Linked DNA regions of Homo sapiens. The protein of the gene in region 1 interacts with the protein of each later gene in a biochemical or structural test. Each region holds a gene or a part of one and is shown in the gene's direction. Other genes may lie near its edges. The genes, in order: PAK2, SH3RF3 and MYL2.

Region 1 (10,020 bases):
GCATCCTCACAGAAACAAAGGCCATGTGCAAGGGAGAAATAGAAATCTTTTTCAAGTGATCTTGACCTTTTTTTGTTGAGTCTAGTACACCGTTAGGAAAAGGTCACACTTGCTCCTAGAACTTTTCTATCAACCAGTAAGTCTGTGTGTAAATTAGTAATTTTTTTGAAAAACCAATGTTTGACCACAAAATGGTAGCTTATTTTCACCTAGTACACATACATACATATATGTGTGTGCGCACGCGCGTGCGTGTGTGTGTTTTGTTTTGTTTTTGAGCTGGAGTTTACTCTGTTGCCCAGGCTGGAGTGCAGTGGCACAATCTCGGCTTGCCAGAACCCCCGCCTCCCGGGTTCAAGCAATTCTCCTGCCTCAGCCTCCTGAGTAGCTGAGATTACAAGCATGCGCCGCCACACCTGGCTAATTTTGTATTTTTAGTAGAGACTGGGTTTCTCCATGTTGGTCAGGCTGGTCTTGAACTCCCAACCTCAGGTGATCTGCCTGTCTCTCGGCCTCCCAAAGTGCTAGGATTACAGGCATGAGCCACCGCGCCCGGCCTGTGCGTATGTAATATGTGATATGTGTGTGTGTGTGTGATATATATATATATATATACACATATATATATATATATACACACACACATATACACACACACACACATATATGTATGTCTCTGGGCATTTTTAAAAGAAAAACAAAACAATGTCAGAATTTTACTTTGCACAATTGTCATTGTCTTAATTGTTGCATTAAGTTCCTCAGTCAGCAGTTTTCTGGAGAAAGTATCTTTATCAATAAATTTGTTTTGTTTTAATAAATACAGATTGATAGGTATACTTTCAAACTAAATTTTGATAGCTTTATTGAGGTATAATTTACATGCAATACAATTCACCCATTTTAAATATATAATTCACTGATTTTTACTAAATTTATAGTTTCATGTAGATTTCAGATTTCTTACCTTGGTCTTATATAAATTCTTATTTGACTACTTGCGTGTTCATTTTTCTCAAGAGTTAATTCAACTTGAAATCAGTTTAAGAACATTTCACTTTCTCTGCTTTTTTTTTTTCCTTTTATCATATAAAAGTGCTGTTTCTTGAATTGCTAATGTTATGTTTTGTTTCATATTCAGAGAAAGATGGCTTTCCTTCTGGAACACCAGCAGTAAGTTAATTATATTATTTCTTGTATCTCTTGTTCTAATTTAGGTTACCCAAGACAAATCTCAGTTTTTATTTTGCTTTCTAAAATAAATTACAGCCATCAGAGGTAAATAACTACTCAATAGGTGTTTTTAGCTAGCCACCTGATTAGTTGAAGAAGCCGTATTAAATAGAAATTCCTTGATGTGATACTTAATGTAACTAAAATTTATAATGACCTTCAGAACAGTTTAGTTAGTTTTGGTAATGTTAACATATACAAACGTGAACACAAAGAACTTGCTAGCATATATTTTCCTCTCCATCCCTCAGTTTTCCTTCTGGTACTATTTTACTGAATATAGACTGTGGAAAGGTGCTGAACAGTTGAACCTTGTCAGTCTTCAGAGTCATCTGAAACTTAAGTTATCGCATAAACACAGTCAGTTTTTGGAAACAGTCGTTTTATTTGCAGTTTCTCAATTGGGAGGAAACAGTCTCCTGGAGTTTTATTTTTTTATATTTTATTTTATTTTATTTATTTATTTATTTTATTTTTATTTTTTTTGAGTTAGAGTCTCGCTCTGTCGCCCAGGCTGGAGTGCAGTGGCGCAATCTTGGCTCACTGCACGCACCGTCTTCTGGGTTCACTCCATTCTCCTGCCTCAGCCTCCCGAGTAGCTGGGACTACAGGCGCCTGCCACCACGACCAGCTAATTTTTTGTGTTTTTAGTAGAGACGGGGTTTTACCGTGTTAGCCAGGATGGTCTTGATCTCCTGACCTTGTGATCCACCCACCTCGGCCTCCCAAAGTGCTGGGATTACAGACGTGAGCCACCATGCCCGGCCCCAAATCTGACTGTTTTAAATGTCACCAGATGTCTCTGACATAACAAAGCCCAGAGGATCTTTGATTTTGGTCTTAACAAGTAACATTGTTTACTTTCAGGACATTGTATATGTATGCTTAGGGTAACTTTATTAAAATATTTGGTACTCACCATATATATATATTTCATAAACTTTTTCATGATTCATAGAATCGCCTTATTATGTTAGATTATAATTCTATTGAGTTATCTAAGAGCTAATGAGATTTAGTGGTTTTGAAATGAGCTATCAAAGAAGCAAACTTTTTGAAGTACGTTCATAAAGGGCGATAGTCGCATTTAAGCCTATTGGACTTGTTTTCCTTACTTTGCTCATCATCAATGCAGCTGAATGCCAAGGGAACAGAAGCACCCGCAGTAGTGACAGAGGAGGAGGATGATGATGAAGAGACTGCTCCTCCCGTTATTGCCCCGCGACCGGATCATACGAAATCAGTGAGTCTCCATCGGTGATCTAGGCTGTGTGTGTGCACGTGTGTTTTAAAAAATAGCAGAGTTTGTATTTGACTTTCAGTGATTGCTTTTAAAAAGCCCTCAAGTTTAAAATCGTTTAGTATGGGGAAATTTAACCAAGAAATCTGTACCCAAAGACCACTCACCTAAAACTAGTTTTCTGAAGATTAAAATGTGATGTCTTTAAAAGTTAACGCACTCACCTCACTGGGCTTTTTTCTTTGTATAGTACACCTTTTCCAGAGGGTTCGTCTATTTCCCAAGCTTTCTCTGTTTATCTCAATGTAGATGACGACTAAATCTAAAACTTAGAGCTTTCCTCTTACCCAGATTATGCATTTTAATCTCCCATTTTACACTACTCTCAGCGCCTTGCTGTCATTCAAAAGGCAGTTGAGAATGAAATTCCTAACCAGGTAAGGGAGAATTTTAAAAATGATGACCTTAAATGGAGCCAGGAAGAGAGGAATGACTGCGGTTACCATTCTGCTCCCTTCAGTACTGCAGGTAGAGTGTGCGGAAGGTGCTGTGCCGTGGAATGGGCTGTGCTCCTGGCACAGCGGGCAGGCAGAGCTCAGGAGACAGCCTCTGGATGCCAAGCTGATGGCAGAGGACTCCGTTTTCTTTAGCCTTTCAATCTGGCTGTTTGAAATGGGTGGTAGGCATTATAATTGTGTAAAAACTTTCATGGGAATTAATAATAGTTATTTCAACATCAAGGTTTCTGTTCTTTTGCATTTTACTTACCATTTGTAGTAAAAACATGATTTTTAAACCGTGCTTTTTGATACATTGTTATACCATTTTAGACCTGGTCACACTTAAATTTCATTCATGGACCTGCTGTTTTACTAGACAGCTTTTCAAATATATTCATGCTATGCCAAAGAAAAATGTTTCACATTTATTCTTCTTAGTTACACATCTTTTATATCTGAAAATAGTGTTCTCATTATTTAGAACAATGGAAAAGACTACTTAGTTCAGGTTAAAAATCAAAGAACTGAATTAGTTTGCCAGGAAGAATATCTGAAAACATTATTCCTCAAACCTTGGTAATGAACTGTGTCTCCACAGATTTACACACGGTCTGTAATTGACCCTGTTCCTGCACCAGTTGGTGATTCACATGTTGATGGTGCTGCCAAGTCTTTAGACAAACAGAAAAAGAAGACTAAGATGACAGATGAAGAGATTATGGAGAAATTAAGTATGTTATCTACATTTTACATCATTGTTAAATTGTTCACGGCTCTTAAAACATTTGGCCCAGATGGATTTTAACTTACACTTTACATTGTGACTTAAAGTATAAAGAATAAATTGTTTCCTTATAGCAACAGTAGCTTCAATTACAATCTGGTGATGTCACCAGGTTCACCCCTAAATCCCAGCACTAGGTCAGGAGATCAAGACCAGCCTGGCCAACATGGTGAAACCCCGTCTCTACTAAAAATACAAAAATTAGCTGGATGTGCTGGCATGTGCCTGTAATCCCAGCTACTTGGAGGCTGAGGCAAGAGAATCACTTGAACCCAGGAGGTGGAGGTTGCAGTGAGCCAAGATTGCGTCGTTGGGCTGGGCGCGGTGGCTCACGCCTGTAATCCCAGCACTTTGGGAGGCCGAGGTGGGCGGATCACAAGGTCAGGAGATCGAGACCATCCTGGCCAGTATGGTGAAACCCCTCCTCTACTAAAAATACAAAAATCAGCTGGGCATGGTGGCATGTGCCTGTAGTACCAGCTGCTTGGGAGGCTGAGGCAAGAGAATCACTTGAACCCGGGAGGCGGAGGTTATAGTGAGCCGAGATCGCGCCACTGCACTCCAGCCTGGCAACAGTGAGACTCCATCTCAAAAAAAAAAAAAAAAAAGCGAACCGGCCGGGCACTGTGGCTCATGCCTATAATCCCAGCACTTTGGGAGACCAAGGTGGGTGGATCACTTGAGGTCAGGAGCAAGACTAGCCTGGCCAATGTGGCAAAACCCCATCTCTACTAAAAACAAAAATTAGCAAGGTGTCATGGCAGGTGCCTGTAATCCCAGCTACTTGGGGAGCTAAGGCAGGAGAATCACTTGAACCTGGGAGGCGGAGATTGCAGTGAGCCGAGATCGTGCCACTGCACTCCAGCCTGGGCGAAAGAGCGAGACTCAGTCTCAAAAAATAATAATAAATAAAATTAACAATTAAAGAATGCTAATCTAGAGGGTTCAAGGAAAAATACTGTATGGAAGGATTGTTTTAAACATAAAGCCTGGGCATAGTGGCTCAAACCTATAATCTCGGTACGTTGGCTGGCCAAGATAGGAGGATAGCTGGAGTCCAGGAGTTCAAGGCCGAACTATACAACTTAGACCCCGACTCCACCCCCTCAAAAAAAAAAGAAAAAAAGAAAATTAACGAGACCTGGTGGTGCATGTCTGTAGTCCCAGCTGACTGGGAGCCTGAGGCAGGAGGATTGCTTGAGCCCGTGAGTTCAAGGCTGTAGTGAGCTGTGATTGCGCCACTGCACTCCAGCCTGGGTGACAGAGTGAGACCCTGTCTCTAAAAAATAAACAAATGTTTATATGCCCCATGTTTATTTGGTTTTGATTTCTCAGTGCTTTCAAGTATAAACCTGGCTCTTACTCTGTTATTATTATTATCTTTTTTTTTTTTTTTTTTTGAGACAGAGTCTCGCTCTGTCACCCAGGCTGGAGTGCAGTGGCGTGGCTCACTGCAATCTCTGCCTCTCCAGTTCAAGCGTTTCTTCTGCCTCAGCCTCCCGAGTAGCTGGGGCTACAGGTGTGCGCCACCACACCCCGCTAATTTTTGTAGTTTTAGTAGAGATGGGGTTTCACCATGTTGGCTGGGCTGGTCTCAAACTCCTGACCTCAGGCATGAGTCACCACACCTGGCCTGCTCTGTTACTCTATGAGCATATAAGAATTATTTTAGGAGAGCTGCTACTTAAAAAAAAAAAAAAAATTAACTAGAATCCTAATTGTCATCATTTAGTTGTGACCTTTAGCTGTCACATCCCCAGTCTTTTTGGTATCTTTTTGTTCTTAGCCTCTTATTATTGATCCTGTTTCTTTGCTTGTTGACTTGAGGTTGGGTACCTACATAAAACTATTTATGTCAGTTTCCTTGATATGGTCCTGTCCTTTTTTACCTTGAGCAAGTGAAAGTTTAATGTGGTTTTTCTTACTAGTAATAAGAATATAAGTTAGGATTTTATGTCCAACTTCCTAATTTTAAAACCTCTTTCTTGTGACTTTGAACTTTCCTAAAACAAACATATGATTAGTTTATGTCAGAGCATAGTAATTTTTATGGTAATAAGTGGTTTTCTAAATATATTGAAAGATGAAATGTATACTGGAAGAGTCAGAAAGACCATTTAGGGTTTAGATAGCCTTTATTATTTATAATACTAAGTAGTCTCAAACTTACCTATTAATAGATATATTCAAATATATCTATTTCTATATTCAAATATATCTATTTTATATTCAAATATGTCTATTTTCTTGAGATTACCTGATTCTAAAGCTGAACATCTGAGAACCTAATTAATCTCTGACAAACTGGTACAGTCTTTTCAAAATGTGACCATTATTGAGCAAATGATTAGTTAGGAGGTCTAACCTAATGGAAATAATGTGTCTTCTTGTTTCTGTTACTTTTAAACTTTTAATGTGTCTTGTTTCTGATACTTTTAAACTTTTATTATGTATTTAAGTTTCTTTAGTGTTTTGTGTTTGAAACCTGTTATTTTTGGAACTTAGTATTATGTTTGAAAATCACTTATAAAAACAGTGGAGTTCATTAAAAGGAATAATAATATCACAATCAATTTACACTTAAAATGCTTGACTGAGCTTCCAGCTTTTTGTTTATTCTAGGAACTATCGTGAGCATAGGTGACCCTAAGAAAAAATATACAAGATATGAAAAAATTGGACAAGGGTAAGTATTTGTGACTGTATTACGATAATATTCAGTATTCAGTATTTCCTGGCTTTATAGCATGATGTTTATTTTGCCTGCCGACATCAAGTACTTATATAGTATTCTGTGAGTGGTACCCTTGGGGGATTTGTGTAAATAAATAATGCAGTTATTTGTAGATGCTGTTAAAAAACTGTACTAGTTGTTAGCAATGACTGTGTATCATTATTTTTTCTTAAGTGTCATTTCCCATCTGTGATAATTAGAGGGAAGAATTGCCCATAAAATATATTTAAAAGACAATAAGAATATTTACTGCATGACTATAAGCAATAAAAAATGCATTTAAATCATGTCATTGTGTATTGACTTTTGAGTCTACTGATCTTCTGATTTTGTTGTGTAATTTGTATTTTTAAAGTATACTAACTAAACTCCTTTTTTCTGTTGCTTGGAAGCAAATAAACACCTAAATTTTTAATGTTATTAAACTCTGGAAAGCATTCTGTGAATTTAGAGTGAGGGCTTAAGCCATTTTTGAAAACTTCCATATGAATTCCTTCCTCCCTTCCTTCCCTTCCCTCCCTCCCTTCCCTTCCCTTCCTTCCCTCCCTCCCCTCCCTCCCTTCCTTCCCTTCCCTCCCTTCCCTCCCTTCCCTCCCTCCCTTCCTTCCCTTCCTTTCCTTCCTTCCCTTCCCTCCCTTCCCTCCCTTCCTTCCCTCCCTTCCCTTCCTTCTCTTCCTTCCTTCCCTTTTTTTTTTTTTTTTTTTTTGGCGGAGTCTGTCACTCAGGCTGGAGTGCAGTGACATAATCTCAGCTCACTGCAACCTCTGCCTCCCGGGTTCAAACGATTCTTCTGCCTCAGCCTCCCAAAGTGTTGGGATTACAGGTGTGAGCCACTGCACCAGGCCTGAATTTCTTCCTAACAGCTAAATTCAATTGCAGCACTGGTTTTATGAAAGAGAATTGAAGATTATCTTACTATTTTTGAGCATGAATGAACAAGCAATACCTATCCATATGGATGACCATCACAAATCCAGTGTTGAGTCACAAAAGCAAGTTGCAGAATAATATGTGAAATGAAACTATATGACGTTTAAAAATTAGACAAAGTATATTTTATAGGGATACATATCTGCGTCCTTTGTAGTTAAAAGTATGGAGAAATGCATGAAAATGATGAACACCAAATACAGGATAAACACCAAATACAGATCACCTTTGGGAGGAAGGAGACTGCTGTCGGAAAGGGCTTATGGGAATCTTCAAATTATTTACAGTTATTTGTATCTTAATCAGGGAAGTGTATCCTTAAGTATATGTTATATAATTTTTTTCCTGCTCTTTTTTCCCTACATTTTTGTAGGTCTGAAATATTTCACACATAAGTTTTGCCGTAAGGATTGTCTCTTTCTTCCCCCACCCCCTTTCCTCAGGTTTTTGCTTTTACTCCTTTTAAGCACGTTAGGTCATCCTGTTCTTTAATTCTTTTTCAATTGCTTGAAGTGTAAAGTCTTTGGATATTGCAAATGCTAGTGATTTATCAACCTTAAATCTGGTTGTGTGTTTTCTCCCTCTAGGGCTTCTGGTACAGTTTTCACTGCTACTGACGTTGCACTGGGACAGGAGGTAGTTACTTTGTTGTAATCCTGGGTGTTACCATTATTTTGTCATATAGGTGGAAACTAGATGAAGCTGGGAAGAAGCAATAGGAACCTCTTTTAAGTTGAGCCCGTTGTAAGAATCGCTCTACGTATGTTTATAGCACTTCTGTCAGTAAGGCGGGGAAGGACTTATGAGTTCAATGTCATAAATAAGCAAATACTTAAAAATTGTTTCCTCAGCTTGAAGTGAAAAGAGGATTAATTCTTAGTATTGGACTGACTGTGGGTGTATTAATCAACTTCAAGATAAATCTAAAACTAGGTTCTAAACATTACAAAGCATTGTGCACAGGCAGTGTGCAAGGCAAGGTGCCACCTGGGAGTAATAGCATGGTGTAATACAGTACACGTACCGTGAGTTATCAACTGCTTGGGGTTTGTAATTTTCTAAGAGAATTCCTAAACCTGGTTTTTTTCAATCCTGTTTTCATTATAGGTTGCTATCAAACAAATTAATTTACAGAAACAGCCAAAGAAGGAACTGATCATTAACGAGATTCTGGTGATGAAAGAATTGAAAAATCCCAACATCGTTAACTTTTTGGACAGGTAAGTATGACTATTCCTTAAACACCGGGAGAAAATGTAGAAATTTTAAGTCTCATGGTTTCGGGGGTGGGGCTGGCCACTTTGGAATAAACTGTCAGTGCCGAGAAATAAGATGGAAGAAAGAAGAGGAGAGGTAAAAATAGCACAGTGCAGTTTTAGAAGGTCCTTCTCTGCAAGGACATCACTTGGCAGGTGAGAGAAGGCAGTTAATTGAAGGCCATAGCTGGTGGTGTTTATACTCATCGCAAACGACCTGAAGCGAACACATGAATGGTTGGCTGTGATTCGTGTCTTGACTGACAGAGGGGACTGGTTACATGGTTTTTAAACTTGTGGATCAATTTTTATTTCAAATGCTATCCTTCATGGACAAATTTATATGTCTATCAAAACCTCATTTAGTTGAGGAATTAATGTTAAATAACAGACCAAAAAGCAGAATAGAAAATGATGCATATTGGCTGGGTGCAGTGGCTCACACCTGTAATCCCAGCTACTCAGGAGGCTGAGGCAGGAGAATTGCTTGAACCCAGGAGGTGGAGGTTGCAGTGAGCCGAGATCGCACCACTGCACTCCAGCCTGGGCAATGGAATGAGACTCCATCTCAAAAAAAAAAAAAAAGAAAAGAAAATGATGTATATTACTACAACTGCATGAGAGAAGATTCGTTGAAAATGATAACAGTGGTTTTATTGAAGATAGAGGTGATTATAGGTGATTTTCTTCCATATTTAAATTTGTTTAGAATGAGGAAAAAATAATGTTTAGAGACTTTATCCCTAGTTATGGAGAACATGTTCATAGAAATAAACTTTTCAGGCTAGGCACGGTAGCTCACGCCTGTAATCCCAGCACTTTGGGAGGCCGAGGCAGGTGGATCACCAGGTCATGAGATCGAGACCATCCTGGCCAACGTGGTGAAACCCTGTCTCTACTAAAAATACAAAAATTAGCTGGGCATGGTGCCGCACACCTGTAGTCCCAGCTCCTCAGGAGGCTGAGGCAGGAGAATTGCTTGAACCCAAGAGGTGGAGGCTGCAGTGAGCCGAGATCGCGCCACTGCACTCCAGCCTGGCAACAGAGCAAGACTCTGTCTCAAAAAAATAAATAAAAAATAAACTTTTCAGGTACAGTTCCCTGCTTTTTAAAATAACATTTCAAGTCAGCATAGTGTGGTGGTTAAGATAAGCCAGGGGCTTCGGAATCGTTGATCCTTGGCTTCATATTCTGGTTCTGTCACTTCCTATTAATAGCTGTGTGCCCTTGGATGAGTCACTTCACCTCTCCAAGCCTTTGTCTGTTTATCTCTAAAACAGGACTAGTAATTTCTATATTGTAGGGTTATTTTAATCAGAATGAGCTATGTGCATACTCAAACT
Region 2 (10,020 bases), on another chromosome or scaffold:
CCTCGGGCTGGGACAGCACCAGAGAGCACTTGGACTTGGGCCCTGCAGACTTGTGAGTAAAACTTACTTCCAGGCTTACTTTGGAGGAGGAGCTGCTGGGCTGCGCCCTGTGCAGAGGTGAGAGTCCCTGCAGTGGGGCCAGAACACTCAGCTGCCAAGCACTCCTGGAGGGCCTCAGGTGTGCAAGGCCCACCTGTGATCATGAAAGTGGGAATGCAGGCAGCAGGGCAGTATGGGCTGTCAGGGTCAAGGTTTCCACCCCAAAATGCCAAGGAGGAATGGGCAGTGTTGCTGCCTGCATTTCTTGGGCCTTTCCTGTGCCCAGACTCCTCCAGATCTCAACCATCTCTTTCAAGACTCTGGAAAGAGAGCGGGCGCTGCTCTCCTCTCCACTCTCAGAGGAAGGACATTCAAGTAGAAGGTGCTGCAGAGGGAGCTCCTCTGAGAAAGGACTAGGGGAGTGTACTGTGAGCAGCAATCTGGGGCCGGGTCAGCGAGGCTGGCAGGCTCAGCTGCCCTGCCCCAGCAGCTGGCAGGCAGCAGGCCAGTCTCGTAAGTAGACTTATGAGCCAAGCCCACGAGCCTGGGGTGTAAGTCACCTAGAGGGCCATGCCCCGTTCCTTCCAAGAGGACCTCATCTTTAGGTGTCTGGCATATTCTTGTCCTGCGGACTATGTGCAGAGGGAGCTGAATTTCCAGAAGTTGCTTGTGGAACTCAGAATACGGGTGTGGTCATGGGAAATGCAGGCAGCAAATGCACATGGCATCAGGTTAGAACCGTCTAATGCCCCAGTTCCCCAGCTACACCAACCCTGGTCTGTTCTGGTGCAGGGCCAGGCAAGCTGAGTTCTGGGACCAGCCCCTCCTGCCCACTGGATGCCTGCCTCCTGGCTCTTCTGCACCTTGGCAGTATCAAGTATCGTAGAGAGGCTTTGAGTAGACAGACACTCTGGGCCACCTACCGGCCATTTCATCCTGAATATCTTTCATTCCTTTTTTTTTTTTTTTTTTTTTTTTTTTTTTTTGAGACAAAGTCTCACTCTGTCTGCTGGAGTGTGCAGCGGTGCAATCTTGGCCCACTGCAACCTCCGCCTCCCAGATTTAAGCAATTCTTGTGCCCAGCTTCCCAAGTAGCTGGGATTGATTACAGGCGTCCACTGACATGCCTGGCTGATTTTTGTATTTTTAGTAGAGACGGGGTTTCGCCATGTTAGCCAGGCTGGTCTCAAACTCATGGCCACAAGTGATCCGCCCACCTCGGATTCCCAGAGTGCTGGGCGTGAGGCGTGAGCCACTGCACCTGGCCCCCTTTCTTCATTTTTATAGTCCTAGTTTCCACATACATAAAATGGGGATAATAATACATGTCTGGGTATAATACTTGTAAATCACCTAGATTAACACCAGAAAAAGTATGAGTGCACACTAAACACAACAATAATAATATATGCTATTGTGTCCAGAGTTGGTTCCTGGTGGGTTCGTGGTCTCACTGACTTCAAGAATTGAGCCACAGACCTTCGCGGTGAAGAGCAAAGGACAAAGCTTCCACATGGAAGGGGACCCACCGGGTTGCCCTGGGGTGGCCAGCTTTTATTCCCTTATTTGTCCCCTCCCATGTTCTGTTTTTGTCCTATCAGAACGCCCTTTTTTCCATCCTCCCTGTGATTGGCTACTTTTAGGATCCTGCTGATTGGTGCATTTTACAGAGTGCGGATTGGTGCATTTTACAGAGTGCTGATTGGCGCGTTTTACAGAGCACTAATTGCTGCATTTTATAATCCTCTTGCTAGCTACAGAGCGCTGATTGGTGCATTTTACAGAGTGCTGATTGGTGCATTTTACAATCCTCTTGCTAGCTACAGAGTGCTGATTGGTGCATTTTACACTCCTAGCTGCAGTGCTGATTGGTGCATTTTACAATCCTCTCATAAGAAAGAAAAGTTCTCCAAGTCCCCACTCGACCCAGGAAGTCCAGCTGGCTTCACCTTTCACTATGACCTCTCTAATAGTAACATATGCTGTGACATCTATGATAATAGTAAGTCAGTGAGGGTGAGGGCACCTGCAGCACGGCCTGGCCGACTCCTGCCCCTTTGACCTGCTTCTCCCCAGATGTTCACATCGGATCAGCTCATCCTCAGCTCTTGATGGCCTGTGAGTTATATGGCTTTGTTAGGATTTCAGCGTTCCTTGATCTGATCCATTATGTGTGTGGTGAGCAGAATAATGGCCCCCAAAGATGTCTATGCCCTAAACCCTAAAAACTCATGACTATGTTACCATACATGGCAAAGAGAAATCAGGTTGCAGATGGAATTAAAGTTGCTAACCAGCTGACTTTAAAATAAAGAGATTACCCGGGATTATCCAGGTGGGCCCTGTGTAATCACAAAGGGTCCTTATGAGTAGAAGAGAGAGGCAGAGGAGAAGGTCAGAGTGGCATGATGTGAGCACTCCCCTTTGAAGATGGAGGAAGAAGCCTCCAGAGAAGGGATGAAGGCAGCTTCTAGCAACTGGAAAGGCAAGGAAACAGCTTCTACCCTAGAGCCTGCAGGAGGAACCAGCCTTGCAGATGCCTTGATTTTGGCCCAGTGAGACCACGTTGGAGTTCTGATGGACGGAACTATAATATATTTTTATAGTATGATGCCACTACATTTATGGTCATTCGTTATAGCCATAAACAACTAATATGTGTGTTGATATTACAGTTTAGTGTCCAGGGTATAGAAGTATTCTTATCCCCAAGTTCCTAGCAGACACCACTCTGTTACCAGCACATTCCATGGACTCAGGGGCTCATTCGTCTTCCTGTGTTGGAGCAAGTGCTCTGAAAAGGCTACCACATGGAGGGCCACTTTGCAGACTCTGTTGTCAGGGAGGGAAGCAGACGACCCCCAAGGAAAGCAGAACATCCAAACCTCGCACACAGAGCTAATGGTAATAATAATGGAATGAGAATTCATTCTGATTTTGCCCATTTGGATTCCTTGAGCCCTGTGTCTGAAAATTAGCTGTGGTTGCCATAACCTTAATTATACTCAGCAGGGCAGAGTTGCTTGCTGATTTATGACGCACAGTTGTGACCTGGGAGTAGCTGTCATCCTCAGCTGCTGACACGGACACGACAACGGCGCTCTGTGTCTATAACGGGGAGTATCAATTACTTTCCTGCAGCAGGAAGAACAGCTCAGAGTCTTGGAATGATCTGGACAGAAACGTTAAACACTTGTCTCGTATAAATTCAGCCCACATCCATCTGGGCTCATTAAATCATTGAATTGCTCAGAAGCACCAAATTACATCTTTCTAACAAATTATATTTTTAAAGCTGCTTGTTTATTTCACATCTGGAAGTTGAGGCAAAAGCCAAAACTTGCATTCAAAGTCTGAGAAATCATCTCGCCCTTTGCCTTCCTTTCTTTCCTTGGGGAAGAGAGAGGAGGAGCAGGTGTTTGGAAGAGGTGGAGGATGGCAGAAGGCCACAGGTAGGATGGCGCTGATCCTGTGGGCCCTCGCAGCCTCAGTTTGTGTGTATGCTGTCTGATTTCACAGACCGCTGGCTGCATCCCGGCAGCCATCTGTCCTCCTTGAAGGAGGGCCAGCAGGAAGCCCTCACAGAGACGCTGAGCTGGGAGGAAGGAGGTGCCTCCGCCTGCCCTCCTTCCTTCCCGCCTGCATGTCCCTGAGAGCAGAGTCTGGTTCGCCGGCAGATAGCCCATGGGAACCAGTCCAACCATCGTGCACCCGTAGATGCTCTGAGACACTTAGAGTTGGCTGGTATTCGGGACTGCGACCCAGAACCTGGCCTGTTCTGCTTCCCCAGGAGTAGGAACACTGCACCCCCAAGTCAGCCTCAGGAGCCCATCCTCCATGCCTCCTCCTCTTGCCAGCCTGGTGCAAGCTGGGCCTGTGTGCCCAGGGGCTGTGCACTCCATAGGACTGGGCCTTGGTCTCCTGTCTGCACATTTTTCCTGAGCCTGGCACCAAGCCAAACTGCCCCAAAGCCATGGCTTCTGCGCCCCAGGCTCTGTGAACACGTGGGGTGGGGAAGGGCAAAGGCTTCCTCCCTGAGCATGCACTCAGCTCGATTTTCAGACACCAATGTGCAAGCATTCCCTCCCAGAGCTGCTGAAAATCCACATTCCCTAGTTCATTCCCCCTAAGTAGTATCAAGTAGGTCCAGGATGGGCCCAGGGAACTGTGGGGGGTCCTGAAGTATGTGAGCCACACTTGGAGCAGGTGTGCAGTAATCCCTGTGGCGATGGGGCTTGCAGACTGGTGCAGGAGGCAGGATGGGTTGGGTAAACAGGTGAATGGCTGGGCAGTGGAAGATGGTAAGAGCTGGGAAAGGGCAGGCCCGGCGTGGCCACACAGGGAAGGGCGTTCTGGGCAGAGGGAGCAGCATATGGAGGAGCCCTGAGGTGGGTGCACCTGGGGTCGCTAGGGCGCGGCAGGGCAGAGCTGGTGGAGTGGGAAGGGCGCAGTGTGGAGGGCCTGGGAATGCTGGGGCGTTTAGACTGTGGCCCCTCCTCTGAGAGGGATGGGGACTGCTGGAGCCCTCTGAGCCTTTGCCCAAAAGGAGCCTCAGCTGTGAGGCAACTCAGTCCAAGCAGGGTGAAAGCAGGAGGCCCAGAGTGGGCAGCCGCCAGGACCAGGAGCCACCCACAGGAGACCTGCACGGAGGCCACCAGGGAAGGCATCCAGAGCCGCGGGGGCCGTGTCTCCTAGACAGCCTCGGCGTCTGTGGAGATGGGTACCCGGGCAGTCCAGTGCTGGTTATTGAGTGCCTTCGCCCTGCCAGGCCCATCTCGGTGCTGCTCAGCAAAGTGGGTGTCTGAGGGACCGTCAGCCAGGGGTTTTTAGGCAGAGAGAATAGCTGCACCCTGCCTGCCACAAAATCCACCACATGTGGGATCTGGGCTTTAGATGTGCGGTCCAACACCCTGGTGGCCCAGGGGCATCTTCTCTCAGCCCTTACTGCACAATCCTCACCCACAAAAGGGCTGGGGGTGCAGGGGCCCAGCCAGGCTTCGGGCAAGCATGCCCCTGTGGAGTTTCCCCAGGGCAGAGGGAGGCCCAGCTAGTGGGAGTGGGGATGGGGCCCTGCCTGTCAGACTCTAAGCATAAGGGCCGAGGGCACAAGGCCCAACTGGTTCGTCCTTGGCAGTGTTTTAGAGGAAGGCTCTCCTGGGGCCACCACAGCTGCTTTTCAGCCTTGTTCCTCCTCCTCTGTGGCTTGCAGGATGGGTGTGGGATAGCAGAGCAGGGGGGTGTGTGTGTATGTGTGTGTGTGTCCTGTCAAACATAATCATAGCCGGACACTAGTGAAAGTAGTCAGACAGGTTTTAATCGGCAACATAACTGACATTTGCAATGGGGAATAGGGTCCAGGCTGAGCTGAGCTCAGGTTCAATTGGCACACAAGTGACTGGGGGTTTCCAAGAGAGAATGAGGGAGCAGGGAGGCAGCGAGTGGGGGCTCAGGAGAGTGGGGGAAGTGAAAAGTTACAGATGGTGGAAGCGGGTGGTCCGTGTGAACACATCTGGACATGCTGACGTGCTCACTGAAGTCAGGAGACAGTGTGTGGCTGTCCTCAGGTGTGGCTGGAACCCACAGTCGATTCTTTTGGCTGCCGTGAGGTTTCTCAGGCAGGCACTTTAAAGGGGACTGGGGTCAGCCTAGGGATGCCACCTTGAGCTGTTAGAAGCTATGTTAGTGGTTGTTCAAGTTGTTATAGGCAGAGGTGAGGCCCAGCCAAGAAGAGGGCTCAGAGGAGCCAGGCTGGAGTGTGGTCGAGGAGAGAACTCTTGGTCAGTGCCACAGCTAAGTGTTGCCAGGAGCACCTGCCACAGCCCAGAGAGCCCCTGGGGTGCACTCAGAGCTCCAGCACCTGCCACGCAGCACACCCCATGCCCCTGGGTCCCTGCAGGCGGAGGCCATGCAGGGAAGACCCCAGGGAAGGCTCCTGTCTCTGATTCCACACTACAGCATATTGGTCTGAAGACAGGGACTCCAAAGAGGCCTCAGAGGCTGCAGGGGGCCCAAGTCTTGTGGAAATGAGATGTGGGGAAAGTTGGGCCTTATTGATGTTGATGTTGTGGCCTCAGCCAGTTCCAATGCTAAGGCACTGGGAAAAAAATCTTATGATTTTTGGAGCACATTTAAAAATAAGGACAGGTTAGGCACGGTGGCTCATGCTCGTAATCCCAGCACTTGGAGAGCCTGAGGCCAGCGGATCACTTGCACTCAGGAGTTCAAGACCAGCCTGGGCAACATAGCAAGACCCCATCTCTACAAAAAAAAATTAGAAATTGGCTGGGCATGGTGGTATGTGCCTTGGTCCCAGCTATTCGGGAGGCTGAGGTGGGAGGCTTACTTGAGCCTGGGAGCTCAAGGCTTCGGTGAGCTAGGATCATACCACGGCACTCCAGCCTGGGTGGAAGAGCAAGACCCTGTCTCAAAAAAATAAGGACAATTTACATAAACAATGTTCCAAGTACCTTTCACACATCACATTGGGCCCCAACCTGTGAGGTGGTGCTGCAGTTGAGGAGCGTGCTTTTCAGAGGAACCTGCAGAGGGAGAGGTGAGGACACGAGCCCAGGGTCTTGACACTGGGATGGGGCAAATGGGGACACAGTTTTTCCTGACCCTCCCCCGCCCCTGCCCCTGGGAGGCCGCAGTCTAGGTGGGTGGGCCAGGGCAGGAGCGTGGATATGAGATGGGGGGCTGTGCTTGGGTGGAGAATCTTCAAGGGAGTGAAACAGTCCAGCTTCTTCGTAGATCAGCGTCTAAAAGGACAGCAGGGGGAAATGCCTTTTAAATTTTTTTTATTAAAAAATGAAAAATTTCCAGAGTTTTGAAAAAATTAAAAATAAAGATAAATAGAAATTGTATAAAGTGGGAAAATAGCAGCAAATAACAATAATTTACACCGAGGGAAGAAGAGAAAGCACGACCCAGCAGATGGAGATTGTCTGTGTGGGGCTCACCCACTGTGCTGTTTCCCCAGGTACCGCGTGGTGGTCTCGTACCCACCCCAGAGTGAGGCGGAGATCGAGCTGAAGGAAGGCGACATCGTCTTTGTGCACAAGAAGCGTGAGGACGGCTGGTACAAGGGGACCCTGCAGCGGAACGGCCGCACAGGCCTCTTCCCGGGCAGCTTCGTCGAGAGCTTCTGAGAACTGGTGCTCCCTGCACCCAGCTCACAGAGGGGGAGGCCGCCTGGGAAGCTCCACGGCACACAGAGAGGGAGCCATGGCGCCCCAAGGGTTCCAGGTCATCTCCAAGGCACCTGGCGGGGGATACCCTGGCCCAGGGTGGGGGCCAGGGACTGTGGAGGTCGTGCCTTCTCCCAAAACCCCCAAACGGAGAGCACACCTGGGATGTTCTTCAAGGAAATGCCCACCCCCTCTGTGGAAACTGCAAAGAAAGCACCTTGAGGAAGAGAGGCAGGTGCCGGCGCAGGCAGGCCTGTGGCTGTGGTTTGCAGCCATGGCAGCGTTCTCATTTACCACCTAAGCAGGGTTGGAGGTTGCAGGAGGTCTGCAGGCGAGGTGGGTGGCATGGGGGCCAGGAGCGCTGGAGATCATCTTTCTGGGCTGCCCTGGGCTTCCCGCGGGGCCCAGGTTGCTCTGTCACCATTCTATATACCTCAGTCACCTGCCGCCCGGCTGCTCAGCAGGGGTGTTTGTGAGGCCCTGGGGGTGCCCCGGAAGGGGCACCCCACCGCCCCTGTTGGGAACCAGAGCAGAATCTGTGGGCTTGTCGCCTGCCAGTAGTATAAGCAACACTTTCTGTTCACCACCATTGTCCCTTGCATTACTTCTTTCTTACAGCATATTTTTAACATAAAGCTGTTAGACTTTATATATTTCTAATAGGTCAGACATTGCCTATTTTTCATACATCTGGTGCTGCCTTTTTGTAAAACTAATAATGACTTGGTTGAGCTTGAAAGAAAAGATGTCTGAGGCGACATCAAAGGGGCAGAATTTTTATATTTCCCATATGGCTTTGGGAGAGCGCCGAGAAGCCGCCATCCCGCACCTCAGCGCTGGCCAGTACTCTGGGGGCTGGCGGGGTGGATCCATTGAGGGGGTCGGAGGGAGCTTGGAAGCAGCCGGTTTCTTTAAACTCTTACCAAAACCCCGCGCTCTGTCTAGACGGTGATGATTATTATTCAAGACCTGGAAACATTTCGAGGAAGGGCCACTATAATTGTCCTTTTGTGTGGCGGTAGAAGGAGCACGCAGGTCAACCCCAGCCGGGAAGGCAAAATCTTCCCTTTATTGCCTCAGAGAGAACTGCAATTAGCATTCTCAGAAGATGATTTCTTGGTATCAAAATGTGCAGTTTCTACAACAGTTTAGATCACCACCACCATTTTTCTTCTTTTTTAAAAATAAATAACTGCTCCCATTTCAGGCAGTGCAAACCTTCATCTGCTGGAGACCAGAGGTACAAGGAGATCAGGGGGTTGCAGCACCGCTGCAGGCTTGCAAGATCGGGGAGTTGGGAGGGCGAGAGAGGAGGAGGTGCAGCTTTGATGCTGGGACCTCCCTGAGTGGGGCTGATGAATGTATATTCATTAGCACCATGGCTCACTTCCCAGGAAGACTGATCAGGAGCCCTTCAGGGACAATTTTGTTCTCAAGATTCACACCTTAGGAACACATTTTTATCACCTCAAAATTTTGATCCATCACCCCTCTCTCCACCTATATTTTTACAAATACCATTCAGACTTAAATTAAGCTGAAGAAACTAGCCTTTGGTAACATAGGGTGTCATTGGTTTTCAGGGATGTAACCAATTCCAGAAATACATTCTTTTGCCTGGCATGAAGACTTTGAAACACGGGCCGCTTATTTTCAGAGTTCCTGTTTTGGGACGTGACTTGGCTACTTGTTACTTCCAGGTGGTCACCACACGGCGGGGGTCATGCCTTTCCCTCCCCCAAGATGATAATAGATTTAATAGACTCAAAGAAGTTGTTCAGAATCAAAGAAGAAAAAGTCTGGCTTAAACATAGTAACTTCTGTGTGCCAGGTTAATGACAACCAAAAGCTCTCTATTTACCATTATTGCCAAACTTCATCAGTTGCCCATCCTGCACCAAAATCCTGTGCGTGTTTAAATTCACGTTGTCACCAAAGAGGTGCACAGATCAACAACCTGGATGACGCAGGTGTTCTCCAGGGAAACCAGACCAAGTCAAGTCTCCAGGTAACTTTTTTGAAGTCTTTTTTTTAAGGCGCGCAGGTACCAAGCAACAGAATAGAGTAACCTGAACGTTCTTACTCTCCCAGGCATGGCCCACGTGGTGCTTCAGGTAGAAATGTGCTTCACCCTCCTGGTGGGGGGCGAGGACACAGCCCACTGCATGCAGCATGGTAGAGAGCTGGGGCGAATATCTCCATGTCTTTGGAGGATGTCAGCTGGCCGCTTTCAGGGCAGAGTCGGGTGGGCGTTGGTGCCACCTTAGGAAGGAGAGCGATGCGTGGGTCTGGCCAGAGCTCTGGAGCCAATGCCGGGCTGCCTGAGAGCAGAGGAAATGCATGGCCCATGTGCATTTCTGAGTATTTTAAACTCGTTCAGGCCCTGCAGCCTTCATGATGATGTAGCTCGCAGAGAAGAGCAGGAGCAGAATTAGCCCTTTCTTCAGGCCATCTTGCCTCAAAGGGTACACATGTTTGGCGGTTAAGATGAAACTAACCCTTATGTTTCATCCTGGCCCCATGATGTACACATCTTAGCCATGTAGTGGCCTTGGGGGGCCACAGAGATTTCCTTTGAGGAGCATGGTAGAGTCCACAGCCATGGCTGAAGTCAGTGGACACCGAGGGGACAGGACTGCAGGCCACCAGGGGCCTCTGCCCAGAGGGAGGCAGAGAGGATGGCGGCCACGGGTGCTCTCCTGGCATCCTCATGGGGTGATGCCAGGCCGGGCACTTCAAAACAGGCTCAGCCGACTGGGAGATCCTTTGTACTTTGCACAGTTCACACACACAA
Region 3 (10,020 bases), on another chromosome or scaffold:
ATCTCTGGTTATTTCTTGGGGGTAAATTCCTAAAAGCAGAACTGCTGGGTCAAAGGAACTTAAAACAACAACAACAAAAGAACTAAAAACAGGCAGAACTGCTGGTCCGAATTGCCCCCCAAAATCACAGCACTAATTCCTATGCCCAGCAGCCTCGTGCCTTTCCCCACATTTCCATCAACGCTGGGTATTAATAGTCACAATTTTTTTTTGCCAGTCTGAGAGGTGAAAAGCAGTATCTTCTGGGTTTTACATTTTACAGTCTTTGATTATTAACCACTAGCCCCATTTGAAACCCCATCGCATTTGATGGCAATGGACCTTATGAAGAGAACCAAAGTACCAATTAGGCCAAACTGCACACGGGCTTGGATGGACAGGCTCAGAATTCATTTTCCAGCCGTTGCGAGGGCTCACACTGACTCATCCACATTCCCACCTGGCTTTCCAGAGGGAACTATGCTAAAATGATGCTAAAGAGACCAGACTGCTTTCTTTTTTTGTGCGTGTGACAGAGTCTCGCTCTGTCACCCAGGCTAGAGTGCAGTGGCACAACCACGGCTCCCTGCAGCATCAACCTCCCAGATTAATCAATCCTCCCACCTCAGCCTCCTGAGTAGCTGGGACCACAGGTACACACCACTGTGCCCAGCTAATTTTTGTGATTTTTGTAAAGATTGAGTCCCCCTGTGTTGCCCAGGCTGGTCTCAAACTCCTGGGCTCGAGCAATTCTCCTGCCTTGACCTCCCAAAGTGCTGGGATTACAGGCATGAGCCACTACACCCTGCCCTAGTGTGCTTTATATCAAAGGGGAAACCATTTGGGGCTTCCAAACAGGAAATGAACAGTCGTACCTTTTGTCCTCACTAACATTCAGATTGCAGGAATGCCGTGTCCCATAGGGAAAGAGAAATTCCTGAGGCAAGTGTCATATCTGAACTTGAGATAGTCACCTTCCAGGCAGAAAGCTACACCCGCCTCTTTTCCCAGCCTCTGGCATCAGCTGCCGGCGGTGTGGGTAAGGGATGCAAAGAACTCAAAACATGTAGCCAGGATTCCCCATTTGGTCTGTTTGTTTGTTTGTTTGTTTGTTTGTTTGTCTGAGTAAATGGGATTACAGGTACTCACCACCATGCCTGGCTAATTTTTTTGTATTTTTACTAGAGACAGGGTTTCACTGTGTTGGCCCGGCTGGTCTCAAACTCCTGGCCTCAAGTGATCCCTCCGCCTCGGCCTCCAAAGTGCTGGGATTACAGGCGTGAGCCACTGCACCTGGCCTAAAGCTATTATTTTTTAAAAAGCTAAAAACTGGTGTCTCATCTGGCCTCTCCACTCCCTAGCCTGCCCTATCTATAAAATGGGACCAGTAATCTATCTCAGCTGACAGTCAGGGAGATTCTCAGAACTTTATAAATGCCCAAGTGTTTTACAAATGAGGAATCACGGGCCAGGCACAGTGGCTCACACCTGCAATCACAGCACTTTGGGAGGCTAAGGTGGGCAGATCACTTGAGGTCAGGAGGTTGAGACCAGCCTGGCCAACGTGGTGAAACCCTGACTCTACTAAAGAAAAATAAGCTGGGCATTGGTGATGCGCGTCTATACTCCCAGCTACTCGGGAGGCTGAGGCAGGAGAATCGCTTGAACCCGGGAGGCGGAGGTTACAGTGAGCCGAGATTGCACCACTGCACTGCGGCCTGGGTGACATAGCAAGACTCTTTCTCAAAAATAAATAAATAAATAAATAAATAGCTTTATAGAGTTATAATTTGCATACCATAAAATTCACCCTTGAAGTGTGCAGTTTTGTGGTTTGCAGTATACTCACAAAGTTGTGCAACCATCACCACTATCTAATTTCAGAATATTTCCATCACCCCCGAAAGAAACCCCATACCCATTAGCAGTCACTTCCTGCTCCTCCCTCTCCCACCAGCCCCTGGCAACTGCTAATCCATTTTCTGTCTCCATGAATTTCCTGTTCTGGACATTTCATAGAAATTGAATCATACAATATGTGGTATTTGTGTCTGGCTTCTTTCACTGATGTTTTAAGGCTCATCCATGTTGTAACCTTTGTAGGAATTTCCCTCCTTTTTATGGCTGAATAATATTCCATTGTATGGACAGACCACATTTGGTTTATCCATTCATCAGTTGATGGACATGTAGGTTATTTTCAGTTTTGGGCTACTGTGAACGATGCTGCTATACACATTTGTGTTCAGGTTTTTTTGTTTTTGTTTTTGTTTTCCGAGATGGAGTCTTGCTCTGTCATCCAGGTTGGAATGCAGTGGCATGATCTCAGCTCACTGCAAGCTCTGCCTCCTGGGTTCAAGCAATTCTCCTACCTCGGCCTCCCAAGTAGCTAGGATTACAGGCATGCGCCACCACGCCTGGCTAATTTTTGTATTTTTAATAGAGACGGAGTTTCACCATGTTGGCCAGGCTGGTCTTGAATTCCTGACCTCAAGTAACCCACGGGCCTAGGCCTCCCAAAGTGCTGGGATTACAGGCGTGAGCCACTGTGCCCAGCCTTGTGTACAGGCTTTTATGTGGACATGTTTTCAATTCTCTTGGGTATATATCTAGCAGTGGAATGTCTGGGTCATATGATAACACGAGGCCTGACGTTTTGAAGAAACTGTTGGATTATCTTCAATTGTTGACTTTTAATCTGAGGTCCTACAATGATCTTTGAAGATCCCAGAATCCACTCCTGCCAAGTCCTTGGCCCAATCTCTTGGGCAACTCTGCCAGTTTCTCCCAGGCTGAGCTGCCAATCACTTCCCTTCCACAGGCCTTCACTATCATGGACCAGAACAGGGATGGCTTCATTGACAAGAACGATCTGAGAGACACCTTTGCTGCCCTTGGTATGTCACCCTCTCTAGCCCTGCATGAGGGTCTCTTTATCTCACATCCATGAGGAGCAGGAGGTGGGACCATCAGAAAAGCTCAAGATGGTGTCATTTCCCAAAGAAACAACTCTGCCACAACTGGTCTTTAAGACAAATTTCAGGGGATGGGAAAGAAGTGTTTAGTCTTTGAGTACCTTCAGATATCTTTTTTTTCTCTTGAAATAACTTTTTTGTGTGATTTTGAATGCAATGTCAGCTCACAACAGAAAATGGGGAAAAAATGCAGAAAAGTATAAAGGAGAAAATGACATCACCCAGAAGGTCATATTCCACTGTGAACATTCCAGTCCCTCCTCTAAGTCTTTCTAGACATGTCTGTTAGGTTTGGGTTTTAGTTTTTTAAATTATTGGAATCATTCTCTTTCGAATTTATCTTCTAAAATGTATCATCTCAACAGTGTGAGCATGAGTACATGGAGTTTCTTCAAAATATACATGCCCAATCTGCTACCCGCCACCACCACTTACTCCTGACCTTAGAACTCAGGGCAACCATACACAGCTGTGCAGACTGCGCACTGCACAATTCTACAGGGAAGTATTCACATTTGTAGTGAGTGTAGCTTTTTATACTTAAAACATACATTGGCTTAAAAAATGACAGATTTTTCTTATTTGCACAAAGTTAGGCTTGTGGCAGGACTAGAGCAGGTAAATCAGAACCTCCACGGCTGTGGGTTACAGCAGGTTTAACTTGTAAAAGTTCCCTCAGGTGATCCTGATCTGTCTCTCCCGCCTCCAACTGTGAAGGGCTAATTTACAACATGAGCCTTTCCCATTTGAGTGAAAAATGAAAATATCTGCATCAAATGTTCCAGGTTCTGAAGACACTATTTTAAATATAATGAACTGGCCGGCATGGTGGCTCACACCTGTAATCCCAGCACTTTGGGAGGCGTAGGCTGGAGGACCACTTGAACCCAGGACTTCGAGACCTGCCTGGGCAACATGGCAAAACCCTGTCTGTCCAAAAAACTACAAAAATTAGCCAGGCATGGTGGCATGCACCTGCAATCCCAGCTACTTGGGAGGCTGAGGCACGAGAATCGCTTGAACCTGGGAGGCGGAGGTTACAGTGAGTCGAGATTGTACCACTACACTCCAGCCTGGGTGACACAGCCAGACCCTGTCTCAAAGAAAAATAAATAAATAACGAACACCTTCCCACATCAGATGTTAGGGTCGCTTCCAGTCATTTGGTTATTATAAATAACACTGTCAAGAACATCTTCTCAGAAAAGATCTTTGCCTCCATCCACCCCATCTCTGATGATTTCTAGACTAGATTTCTTGAAGTGGAATCCCAGGAGCCAATGGCAGTGTCATAATGGTTCTTTCTCCCCAGCTCGGAGTCCCTGAGTGTGTGTTTCCTACCCTAGGGCGAGTGAACGTGAAAAATGAAGAAATTGATGAAATGATCAAGGAGGCTCCGGGTCCAATTAACTTTACTGTGTTCCTCACAATGTTTGGGGAGAAACTTAAGGGTAAGGTCGTGTGTGTGTGTGTGTGTCTGTGTGTATGTGTCTATGTTTCTTCGGGGGGGCTGGCAGAAGATGGTTAACTTTAAAAGAGATAAAGCACCATTGGAAAAAAATAATGAAAACAGCAACTTGGCTGGGCGCAGTGGCTGATGCCTGTAATCCCCAGCACTTTCAGAGGCCGAGGCGGGCAGATCACTTGAGGTCAGGAGTTCAAGACCAACCTGGCCAACATGGTGAAACCCCATCTGTACTAAAAACACACAAAAAAATTAGCCAGGCATGGTGGTGTGCACCTGTAGTCCCAGGTACTCAGGAGGCTGAGGCGGGAGAATCCCTTGAACCGGGATGTCAGAGGTTGCAGTGAGCTGACATTGTGCCACTGCACTCCGGCCTTGGTAACAAGGTGAGACTCTGTCTCAAAACAAAACAAAACAAAACAAAAACACAGCAACTAACATTGCTCCAAGACTTAACCTAAGTCAGACCTCATGCTAACCACTTTATATGCATTACCCCACTTAATAGCAACTAGGAGGTATGCTCTATTCTTATCACCAGTTTACAGATGGGGAACTGAGACTAAGAGACAGAAAGTCCCTTGTCTGAGGCCACATGGCTAGCAAGTGCCAGGGTTAAGATTTGAATCCCAGGCTTTCAAATCTAGATGATGTTTGACCTTGGGTTCTCAGCCCTCTCTTCGAAATACAGAGGCTCAGTGATCAGACGAAAGCAGGGTCTTTTTCCTCCATGCAAAGCAGCCTTGCTCTGGCCCCTTCATCTCTGGGGGAACTTGGGCCCTGCTGCCTGGGGTGCCAGTGGTTCCCAGCCACCCCCAGTACATGTAAGCCCTGTGTTCCGTTTCAGGAGCGGACCCTGAGGAAACCATTCTCAACGCATTCAAAGTGTTTGACCCTGAAGGCAAAGGGGTGCTGAAGGCTGATTAGTGAGTGGGGTCTGTGGGGGAGGAAGGGGGTTCCCTGCTTGCCCCCTGTCCCCCCTACACACACACAACTGACACCAACACCTGCTTTCCTTTCTCTGCAGCGTTCGGGAAATGCTGACCACGCAGGCGGAGAGGTTTTCCAAGGAGGAGGTAATGGGGTCCTTCAAGCACTCCCTCTAACCCAGCTCCTGGGTTCTCCTTCTGGGGGGCTCCGTCTCCCCTCTCGTCTAAAGCACCCCTGACCCCACACTGACAGAGAACCAGCTATCGTCTTCTGAGGCCTGGCCTCATTTCATTCTCTGCCACCCTATGAGGTAGGGACTGGCATAACTGCCATTTTACAGATAGGCAAACTGAGACCCAGGGAAGTAAAGTCACTCATCTAAAATAACAATAATCACACCTGTAATCCCAGCACTTTGGGAGGCCAAGGCAGGAGGATCACTTGAGACCAGGAGTTTGAGACCAGCCTAGCCAACATGAGGAAACCCTGTCTCTACTAAAAATACAAAAATTAGCTGGGCATGGTGGTGGACGCCTGTATTCCCAGCCACTCAGGAGGCTGACGCATGGCACGAGAATCGCTTGAACCCGGGAGGCAGAGGTTGCAATGAGCCAAGATCATGCCACTGCACTCCAGTCTGGGCAACAGAGCAAGACTCTGTCTCAAAAATAAAATAAAATAACAACACTAATAGTAAATGCCAGGACCTAGATTCAAACCTAGGTCTGCGTGACTGCAGGTTCTGCCTTGCTCACGATGCATAGAGACCTGCTTAGAGCATGACATTATTATGGCGTGAAGGGCCGCCACATACTGTCATGTGAGTTGTGCACTGAACAATTCTTCTAAATGTCAGTTTCATAAAAGTCATCAGACTGTGTATTTGTTGCAACAGCTTTCCAGAACTGGCAGTAAAGTGTCTGGTAATAATTTTTTTTTTTTTCAACTCAGGTGGTGCGGTAGTGAGTTTGGTAGAAGGGGCACTTTTGCTAATTTGCCAAAGCTTCTGTATGAGCAAGCAATGGTGCCGTCAACCTTATTAGTGAACCTTAATGAGTCGATTTTAAATGCTCCCCTCATAGCCTCACAGGCCTGTTTCCATCAAGTTCCACATTTTACTAAAAATTGTATGTAGATTTTCCCTCCCCCAAAATTCAAGCAGCTAAAAGGGCTGCCTTCACTTTCCACCTGCTGTGTGCTTTGAACAAGCTCCTTAACCTCACTGCACCTCAATTTCCTCATCTGTAAAGTGGGAATAATAATAGAAGCTACCTCATAGGAGATTGCGAGGATTCGACATGTTAATGTGGGGAAAGTGTGAACTTGTGGCAAGGGCAATATAAGTGCTAGCTATGAATAGCCAGTATGTTTTAAAAAAATAATAATAATAACTAGCCAATGCTTTTTAAATGGGGAAATTTTGTGTAAAAACAAAAATCTAGATTTCTGACACCCTGGACCCTGTGGTCACTTCATGTCACCTTTTTAGATGGCCACGTGTCTCCATTTAGCCATAGGACCTATCCTGCTCCCTTGCATAACCTGCCTGGCCCCTCGGAACCCTTGAGTTTGTGATCCCAGTGGAAGGCTGGGTTTCCAGGGACATCTCTGCATGATGTTTACTTGGGAGGGCCCTTGGGGTCAGGGAAGGAAGAACAGGGAAGGGCAAGAAAGGAAGAACAGGGAAGGGCAAGGAAGGAAAAGTGCATGAAGGAAGAAGTTGAGCCAAGATTTAGGCCCAAAGATCGGCACTGCTGACTACCCAGGGAGGGAGCTTATTCTACAGCTCTCCTGAGAGGTACCAAGTTGGGCGAGATGGCCGTGCCTTTATACCCCCACACCAATCCCATCCGCTGGCTGTGGGCTGCCCCAGAAAGGGCATGACCTTGGGCGAGGGGGCCCTGCAGCAGCTGGGGAAGTCCTTCCCCGGAGGACCCTCTGAGTGGCCCATGTTCCCATCCCCCACCCCCCAGCTATCCGTCCACTCAGGCCCCGCCCACAGCCCCCCACCCTCCGTCTCAGTTCCCCTCCCCTCGTCCTTAGCACGTGTTGCTGGCTCATTGCAGGTTGACCAGATGTTCGCCGCCTTCCCCCCTGACGTGACTGGCAACTTGGACTACAAGAACCTGGTGCACATCATCACCCACGGAGAAGAGAAGGACTAGGAGGGGGCTCGCTGCTGCGCCCTGGGCTCGTCTTTGCAGAGTGGTCCCTGCCCTCATCTCTCTCCCCCGAGTACCGCCTCTGTCCCTACCTTGTCTGTTAGCCATGTGGCTGCCCCATTTATCCACCTCCATCTTCTTTGCAGCCTGGGTGGCTATGGGTACTTCGTGGCCGCACATCCTACAGTTGGAAATCCATCCAGAGGCCATGTTCCAATAAACAGGAGGTCGTGTATTTGGTCACGACATTTCTCTGACAAACAGTGCCTTGTGTAAGGAAGGCAAAGGCAGATGAGCTAGTGACAGCCTTGCAGTCATTATTATTGAATCTTGGTGACTCTTTATTTAAGGTAGACCTTTGCAGCCACTCAGAACTGTTTCTATCAAGGATCACGTTTTCCTGGAATGTTACCTGGATGACCAAAGCCCTCTCTTCCAAAGAGCTCAAGCATTTAGAGGGCCTTGCTTCCATGACATCTGTCCCTTGGGATGCCATCGGAATGCCTCTCCTGCCAGTGACAGTGACAAGAAGGAAGCGGACTGACACATGGTAGGAACATAGCTCGTTCAACAGTAATCACACCTGCTAATCCTAAGAGGGTGACTTCTAGTTTCAGATAAAGTAGAAGTTGTCTGTACTTCTTCCCTAGCAAACTGAGGGAGTGGTACTGACTTCTGTCTCTGTCTGGGGCCCAGGCCTGGATGTGAGTTGACCTTTGATTTTGAATGACCACAGTCACGGTTGAAGCATTCAGGTCTGTTATGGCTGCAAGAGTCCCAGTGTAAGAAACAAATAGGGCCAGGTGTGGTGGCTCACGCCTGTGATGCTAGCGCTTTGAGAGGCTGAGGCAGGAGGATCACTTGAGCCCAAAAGTTTGAGACCAGCCTAGGCAACATAGTGAGATCCAATCTCTATAAAAAATAAATAGCCAGGCATGGTGGTGTGCACCTGTGGTCTCAGCTACCCAGGAGGCTGCAGTGGGAAGATCGCTTGAGCCCAGGAGGTCGAGGCTGCAGTGAACTGCACTCCAGCCTGGGTGGCAGAGTAAGACTCTGTCTCTTAGAAAAGGAAAAAAAAAAAAAACAGAAATAGGTTCAAATAACTAAGAAGTCCAAGGGCTTCAAGCACAATTGCACCTAGGAGCCCAGGCAGTGCCCTCAGAGGCTGGGGAGGCCTCTGTTTTCTGTCACGTTGCTCTGCTCTCAGCAGTGGCAAAATAATTAAGAGCAGCTCCTGCCCCTTTTCCAGCCCCTCAGCAATCCTAGAAGAGCGTACTCCTCTCTCTTCCAGCTCCACACAAACATCAGAACAGGGCCTTGTGGGATCCCTCTGGGGCACTTGACACCCCTGAGCCAATCACCATGGACTGGCAAGGGCAGTGCTCTGATGGACAGGCCTGGCTCAAATGATCAGCCCTGTGCTGGGGTTGAAATCAGAGTCCTCCTGAACCATATGGCCTGGAGATGGGAGGGAAGATTCCCCAGAGGAAAACCCAAGAAGAAGCAGGGAGTGGACTTCGGGTACTTCAAGTTTTCAAGAGAATCCCAAGAACCCTCCCAGCACTTTGGGAGGTCGAGTCAGGCAGATGGCTTGAGGTCAGGAGTTCGAGACCAGCCTGGCCAAAATGGCAAAACCCCGTCTCTACTAAGAATACAAAAATTAACCAGGCATGGTGGCACATGCCTGTAATCCCAGCTACTCAGTAGGCTGAGGCAAGAGAATCACTTGAACCCGGGAGGTGGAGGTTGCAGTGAGCTGAGATCACACCACTCACTGAGCTGAGATCACTCCAGCCTGGGCGACAGAGCCAAACTCCGTCTCGGAAAAAAAAAAAAAAAGAGAGAGAGAGAGAGAGACTCCTAAGAACCCAAGAACCCAGGACACAGCCCAAGTCAGTGATGTGATGGGAAGAAGCTGAAATGTGGTGACGGAGTGGAGCTGGGGTCACAGTGAAGGCAGGAGGACCCAGGAGGCCAGAGGAGCCACAGTTAGGGCCAGTCCTCAAGGCTTGACAATGACAACAGTGGGAGGAGCTCAGGGCTGAGCCATTAACAAGACGAATGAAACTGTCCCCTGGCTGCAGAGACCTGGGGCCCCTTTCAAAGCAGGCTGCGTGGGCAGGGACCCAGGGGAGTCATGGCCCCATCCCCATGACCCAGGACACCCCACACCCTGTGGTGACCCTCGCCCCTCACGGCTTCCCTGCACTCCAGAGTTGGTCCAGGCCGAGAGCCTCATACCCGGGCTCCTGTGGTCAGAGATGCAGTCCGGCACCAAGAAGGCGGGACTCAGGACACTCCAGGGCAGTGCGTGGTTCTGGGCAAGACACCCTGGACTCAGCTCCACAGTGACATGCTCACCCACGACAGACACACGCAGAGACAGAGACATGCAGAGACACACAGAGAGATACAGAGATGCACACAGATACACAGTGAGCTGAGATCACACCACTCACTGAGCTGAGATCACTCCAGCCTGGGCAACAGAGCCAAACTCCGGCTCAAA

Evidence for each region.
Region 2: the proteins of PAK2 (region 1) and SH3RF3 form a complex in vitro, tested with the Homo sapiens proteins (one study listed by BioGRID).
Region 3: of the proteins of PAK2 (region 1) and MYL2, one has a biochemical effect on the other in vitro, tested with the Homo sapiens proteins (one study listed by BioGRID).

Annotation. Positions count from the first base shown.
Region 1 is NC_000003.12:196,804,211-196,814,230, forward strand, and holds part of PAK2 (serine/threonine-protein kinase PAK 2), read left to right. Parts: intron 1-1,141; coding exon 1,142-1,173; intron 1,174-2,368; coding exon 2,369-2,476; intron 2,477-3,571; coding exon 3,572-3,704; intron 3,705-6,379; coding exon 6,380-6,443; intron 6,444-8,008; coding exon 8,009-8,057; intron 8,058-8,528; coding exon 8,529-8,641; intron 8,642-10,020. UniProt on the Homo sapiens protein: Serine/threonine protein kinase that plays a role in a variety of different signaling pathways including cytoskeleton regulation, cell motility, cell cycle progression, apoptosis or proliferation.
Region 2 is NC_000002.12:109,494,485-109,504,504, forward strand, and holds part of SH3RF3 (E3 ubiquitin-protein ligase SH3RF3), read left to right. Parts: intron 1-7,018; coding exon 7,019-7,187; 3' UTR 7,188-10,020. UniProt on the Homo sapiens protein: Has E3 ubiquitin-protein ligase activity.
Region 3 is NC_000012.12:110,908,571-110,918,590, reverse strand, and holds the end of MYL2 (myosin regulatory light chain 2, ventricular/cardiac muscle isoform), read left to right. Parts: intron 1-2,800; coding exon 2,801-2,876; intron 2,877-4,266; coding exon of another isoform or gene 4,267-4,300; coding exon 4,301-4,405; intron 4,406-5,266; coding exon 5,267-5,345; intron 5,346-5,446; coding exon 5,447-5,495; intron 5,496-7,415; coding exon 7,416-7,514; 3' UTR 7,515-7,746; downstream 7,747-10,020. UniProt on the Homo sapiens protein: Contractile protein that plays a role in heart development and function.